Regions from separate parts of the Homo sapiens genome. Here region 2 is linked to region 1. The links come from fine-mapping of genetic effects on gene expression. Tissue or cell type: prefrontal cortex. Region 1 holds a variant in brackets; the other region holds the start of a gene. All regions are shown on one strand. Distances are between the middles of the regions.

Region 1 (2,812 bases):
CCAGGTAGGCATTGTTCCCATTTGAGGGATGGGTCAGAGAGACAAGGAGGCTTGCCCAAGATGGTGTTGCTAGTTAGCATGTATTCAAATATTCTTTGGTCTATACTTCTTTATGAATGATGTTTGTTATCACAGCACGGAGCCAGGGCTTCGGACTTGCTCCCTAGCACTCTTTTGGCCCCATCAGGCTCTTTCACCTAAGGATGTAAATAAAAATGGATTTTCCACTGGAAACAGGTCAAATGACTTAATACAGCCACAGACAATTCGGAGCAAGCTGGTAAATCCTAAATGAGTCATGCTTCATTTGAATAACAAACCAGACAAACGCTCAGGCCTACAGCAGAAAGAAATAGGATTATACAGTTAGAGGGAATTTGTTTATTGAGACCAATGGCTTTTAGACATTTCTAAGGCATGAAAACCATTCTTTTTTTTCTTTTCTTTCTTTCTTTTTTTTTTTTAAGTCTTGCTCTTGTTGCCCAGGCTGTAGTGCAATGGCACGATCTCGGCTCACTGCAACCTCCGCCTCCCAGGTTCAAGCGATTCTCCTGCCTCAGCCTCCCGAGTAGCTGGGATTACAGGTGCATATCACCATGCCTCGATAATTTTTTGTATCTTTAGTAGAGATGGGGGTTTCACCATGATGGCCAGGCTGGTCTCGAACTCCTGATCTCAGGTGATCCACCAACCTTGGCCTCCCAGAGTGCTGGGATTATAGGCGTGAGCCACCGCACCTGGCCAGCCATTAAGATGAAGTCTTACCAGGCAGTTGAATGGGAAAACCTATTAAAGCAGCTTTTCTGAAGAACATGAGGCCCCACTTAGCATCTTTGGGAAACGCTCTCATTTACAGATGAGAAAACAGGCCCAGAGGCCCAGGGCGGGGGGACCTGAGCTGGGGCTGGAACCCCAAACCAGTGTTACTCCCATTAAAGGGTCCTCATGAAGAATCAGCTGATGGTCCCAACTCACTTTTTGCCCATGTTTTCCTCTGTTCCCCATATTTCTAAATATATCTTATCCTTTCTATCTCCTTTGCTCAAGCTATTTCCTCTTCTCAGAATGCATTTTCACCTGTGAAATTTGCATTTTCCCCTCCAGACCCAGATCAAAGAGATCTCCCTCCCCCACTCCGCACCTTCCTTTGCCATGAAGCTCTCCCTAAGGGTCATAGCTAGACAGACTTACAGTCCCATATCTGAGTTTCATTAGAACTTGTGGCGACACTCTTAGGACGTTCTGCTTTGTCTTAAAGTCATTTGAGACTTAATCTCACCCCTGAGATTTCATCCTTCTTGGGTTCTGTGACAGGGTCCTCATCACAGAGTCTTTTTTTGTAGTGTGTGTGTGTGTGTTTGTGTGTGTGTGTGTGTGTTTAATGGAATCTATGTATAGAATCACTTTCCTTTCTGAATACCCAAGTTCTGGAGTCAGCCTAGCTTGGGTCCCCATCCCAGCCCTGCCATTTCCTAGGAAAGTCACATCATTTCTCAGC[A/G]TTTTTGTATCTTCAGCCATTACACATGCCCACTCCTCTGTGAAGAGCCAAAGACAGGGTATCGTTAGAGGCATTTATAAGCTACAGGCTGCCTTGATGGCTAGTGTTTTGAGATCACTAGGAAAAATTTTAAATTCAGTTCTAAGAGCCTAAAAAATCGTGCAATGCCAAATAACTGGTTACTTTGGATGTCCCTTTCCAGTGAGTTGCTTAGGCTTTATACAGTCTCAGTCTTCCTTCTACCTGCATGTTGAGCCCCAAGTTCTTGTATTTGCTGCTCTGGAAGTGAGCTCACTGTATTTTTATTGACTGAAACTGTTCCTTCATTTCTAAAATGGTTTTTGAGGTCTACTATGCTACATTATTATGGGTTGAGTTGTATCCCCGCCAAAAGCCCTAACTCTTGGTACCTGTGAATTTGTCTTATTTGGAAATACAGTCTTTGCCAATGTAATCAAGTTAAGATGAGGTAATGCTGGAGCAGGGCGGGCCTGACTCCAATATGGTTGGGCGTCCTCATAAGAAGAGGAGAAGGGACAGAGCCATCCATACAGAGGGAAGATTGCCATATGAAGATGGAGGCAGAGATGGGATTTATGCTGCCACAAGCCAAGGAAAGCCTGCAGTTACCAGAAGCTAGAAGAGACAAGGAAGTATCCTACCCTAGAGGCTTCAGAGAGGGGATGGCTCCACCAACACCCTGATTTCCAACATCTAACCTCTACAACTGCAAGAAATAAATTTTTTTTTAAGTTAAAATTCCTGAGCTCAGGAGATCCTCCTGCCTCAGCCTCCTGAGTAGCTGGGACTACAGATGCGTGCCATCATGCCTGGCTTAAGCTTCTATCATCTTACGCCACCTAGTTCGTGGTACTTTGTTACTGTGTCCTGGGAAATGAACATACATGCAAACTGGCAAATTAGCAGAGAATAAGACATGGTCCACCCTCATCAAATGAGGGAGGCGTGACAACAAACACAAATGAACGAGTATTAAAATGGCTGATTCTTCTAAGTACACTGATGAAATTGAACAGGGTCATGTAACATTCCAGTTCTTACCTGAAGGAAGAGAAGCTCATTGTGGGAGAGGTAGACAGCAGCCAGGTCGCCTAGGGTCTCGGGATGCTGTATGGGAAAATGGGTTGTCATAGAGCCAGGGTGGCCACGGACAGACCTAACTGAGTTGTTTGAATGGATGCTGGTGGCTTGGAAGCACATGGCAGCAATGAAGAAGGAGTGAAAGTGGACAGATTCGAGATACCTTGTGATGGCTGAGCCAGAAGGTCTTGCCGATAGGTTGGCTGTGGAGAT
Region 2 (2,760 bases), 28 kb before region 1:
CACACACACACACACACACACACACACACACACCTTACACACATGTACACACACACACACACACACACACACACACACACACACACACACACACACACACACACACACACACACACACCCCTGTTCTGCAGGGCTTCAGCGTGGCCTTCATTCCCGCCTCGCCTCGGCCTCTTTTCAATTAAGAAGTGATGCCACTTGAGGCAGGGTCTGCATGATCACTTCTTGGGTTTCAGTTTGAAAGCTGCCATCCCTGCGACTGCCCAGGGCCTGTATGTTGGGACCGAAGCCAAACACCACTGTCCTCCAGGGGGCTTTCGGCCCGGGGCAGGGTCCCCAGTGCCCGCCTTCGAATCAGACTCCGCGTTTCCGCCTCTCCCTGGGCGGACCTGCCGCTAGAGGGCGCTCCTCCTCCGCAGCCGGCGCCGGCCTCCAGCGCCCCAGACTCCCGCGCTGCCGCCCGAGCCTGAGGTTTCTCACGGCGTTCGGGATTCGCGCTTCGGAAACCGGGAACAAAGAAGCAAGCAGCACCCTTCAGAAACAGTGTTCTCGCTCTCCTAGCAGCTGGCCCGGGCCCGGAGGCTGGTGCCAGGAGAAGGCAGAAGAGCCCGGGCAGCCGGAGTGGGCTACGGGGTTCAGGCAGTGCCAAGGAAGAAGGGCCTCACAATGGGCAATTCAGCTGCCTCCCGGGCCGTTGTCCCCGCTGTCTTCAAACAGGGGTCCCCTGTCCCAGCTGCCCCAGGAGGAGGGGGGGAGGCAGGCAGGGCCGAAACCCTCCAGAGCCCAGAGGGGGACGCTTGGTGGCCGCTGCAGTTACATAACCATAGGATGCTTTTGTACCGTGGACCTTGTTCTAGCAGGATCCTTTCGGAATTGCACTTTTACATGTTGGGCGAATTTGTGTCCGTGCTGAAGTTTATTAAAGGAAAATAGATGGAGCCTTGGAGTTGCACGTGTGCGTCCCTGCCTGGGAACTAGAGGAAGGAGGGCCACATACTCTGGGTCCCCATCAGCAGACCCGAACGTCAGAGAAGCTGCATGTGCGTCTACTGGGATCTTCTGAGTAAGCTAGAACTGCTGGGCCGGCCTGTGCAGGTTGTTCTGGCTTTTAATCGTTTCCAGTGATTGAAAAGCCCAGGCTACCATCCCTCCAAATAACTCCAGTGCTAACTCAAACCTCATATTCACCATTCACTTTCCGGCAGCTTAGAACCTACCGGGGCGCAGGACGTAGTTTTCGTCTTTACCAGAGTGCGTGGCCGGGCGCGGTGGCTCACACCTGTCATCCCAGCATTTTGGGAGGCCCAGGCGGTCGGATCGCCTGAGGTCAGGAGTTCAAGACCAGCCTGGCCAACGTGGTGAAACCCTGTCTCTACTAAAAGCACAAAAATTAGCCAGGCGTGGTGGTGGGCGCCTGTAACCCCAGCTACTCGGGAGGGTGAGGCAGGGAGAATCGACTGAACCCAGAGGCAGAGGTTGTAGTGAGCCGAGATCATGCCACTGCACTCCAGCCTGGGCAACAGAGTGAGGCTCTGTCTCAAAAAACAAAACAACAACAACAAAACAAAAAAAGAGTGAGAGGACAAAACAGGTGTATATTCCCATTTTATAGATGACATAACTGAGGCCCAAAGAAGGAAAGTGACTCACTCAGTGTCACAGTAAATCCACGGCAGGACCAGGGCCAGAACAAAAGTCTCCTGAGTGGCACTCTTCACTATCACATAACACTGTGGCTCGCAACAGCCCTGGAAGCAAAGCCAGTTGGGGTCACCAGGCACCTAGACCCTCACTGCTTGTCTGCTGGCAGAGAGCCGCTCCTTCTTGTCAGAGTAAGTAGGAAGGAGGCCTTTGCCTGTGCGGACCTATGGTCTGGTGACTCCAGCCAGCACAAACCCATCCCCTGATGGTTGGAGGCTGGGCAAGGGCTTCTTGCAAGATGCGCCTGACAGTGCCTTGTTACAGAGCACCTGCTGTGCTTAGCATTCCACCCGGGGCCAAGAGGCTGTGTGAGCAGGTGACAGCCAGCCTGGCCCCGCCTGTCACAAGCTGCTAGGTCTGCACCCTTGCCACCCATGGCAGGGGGTCTGACAAAGACTCCCCATTTGTGAGGTCTGTTCACTGCCTGTATTTCGAACAGGGCCTGGCTCTGCAAACCTGTGCAAACTGTGTTGATATAGGAGCCGACATGAGCAAGCAGAGGCTCCCCTGGCTCAGGCAGCCCCAGGTTGGGTTGGCCAGACAGCAACCAGGCACAGGGGCCAAGTGCAGGTCCTGCTACCCAGCCACCACAGCTTCCTCTCACCTGATTCTCACAGCAACCCAGGCAGGATAGGCAGGGTGGGGTTATCTTATTTTGCAGAAACAGGCTTTCCCAAGTCTGTCACCAAGTGAGGGGTAGAGCTGGGTGTCCAGCCAGATCTAACCTCCAGCCCAGAGCTGGTGATGCGGAAAATCAGGGCAGATGGCAGCAGGATCTAAAATAGGGAGGGAAGAAGTCCTCAGTTACGTAACAGCGAGGAGACTCTCAGCCTACGCACAGTAGCAACCATGGGGTCCTGCCACTCGAGCCAGACCCTCCTTCCCTTCCCGTTTTGGGCTCTAAGTGCTGCCCCCTGTGAGAGAATGTGCTGGAGGAGCCCCCAGTATCCTTCCAGCGGGAAGTCGGCTCTGTCAAGGCCATTCCCGAGAGCAGGCTCTAGGAATTCAAAGACCAAGCAGGCAGAGCTGGATTCTGGAGCTGCCCTCAAAGGGCTTGAGGGT

Evidence for each region. PIP is the estimated chance that this variant, and not a neighbour inherited with it, causes the effect.
Region 2: it holds the start of LINC02012, and the variant in region 1 is the best candidate, but not a certain one, in a credible set for the expression of LINC02012 in prefrontal cortex (CommonMind, PIP 0.86).

The regions. Positions count from the first base shown.
Region 1 is chr3:197,479,681-197,482,492 of GRCh38, reverse strand. No RefSeq gene overlaps it. Among named protein-coding and RNA genes, the nearest start is that of LINC02012, 29 kb to the left of the region's middle. The variant A/G (reference allele first, on the strand shown) is at 1,499.
Region 2 is chr3:197,507,958-197,510,717 of GRCh38, reverse strand. LINC02012 (long intergenic non-protein coding RNA 2012) reads left to right here and starts at 1,057. Exons shown (of 1, transcript NR_145451.1): 1 at 1,057-2,760. BDH1 (3-hydroxybutyrate dehydrogenase 1) reads left to right here. Exons shown (of 8, transcript NM_203314.3): 8 at 1-935. RefSeq lists a silencer at 2,226-2,520.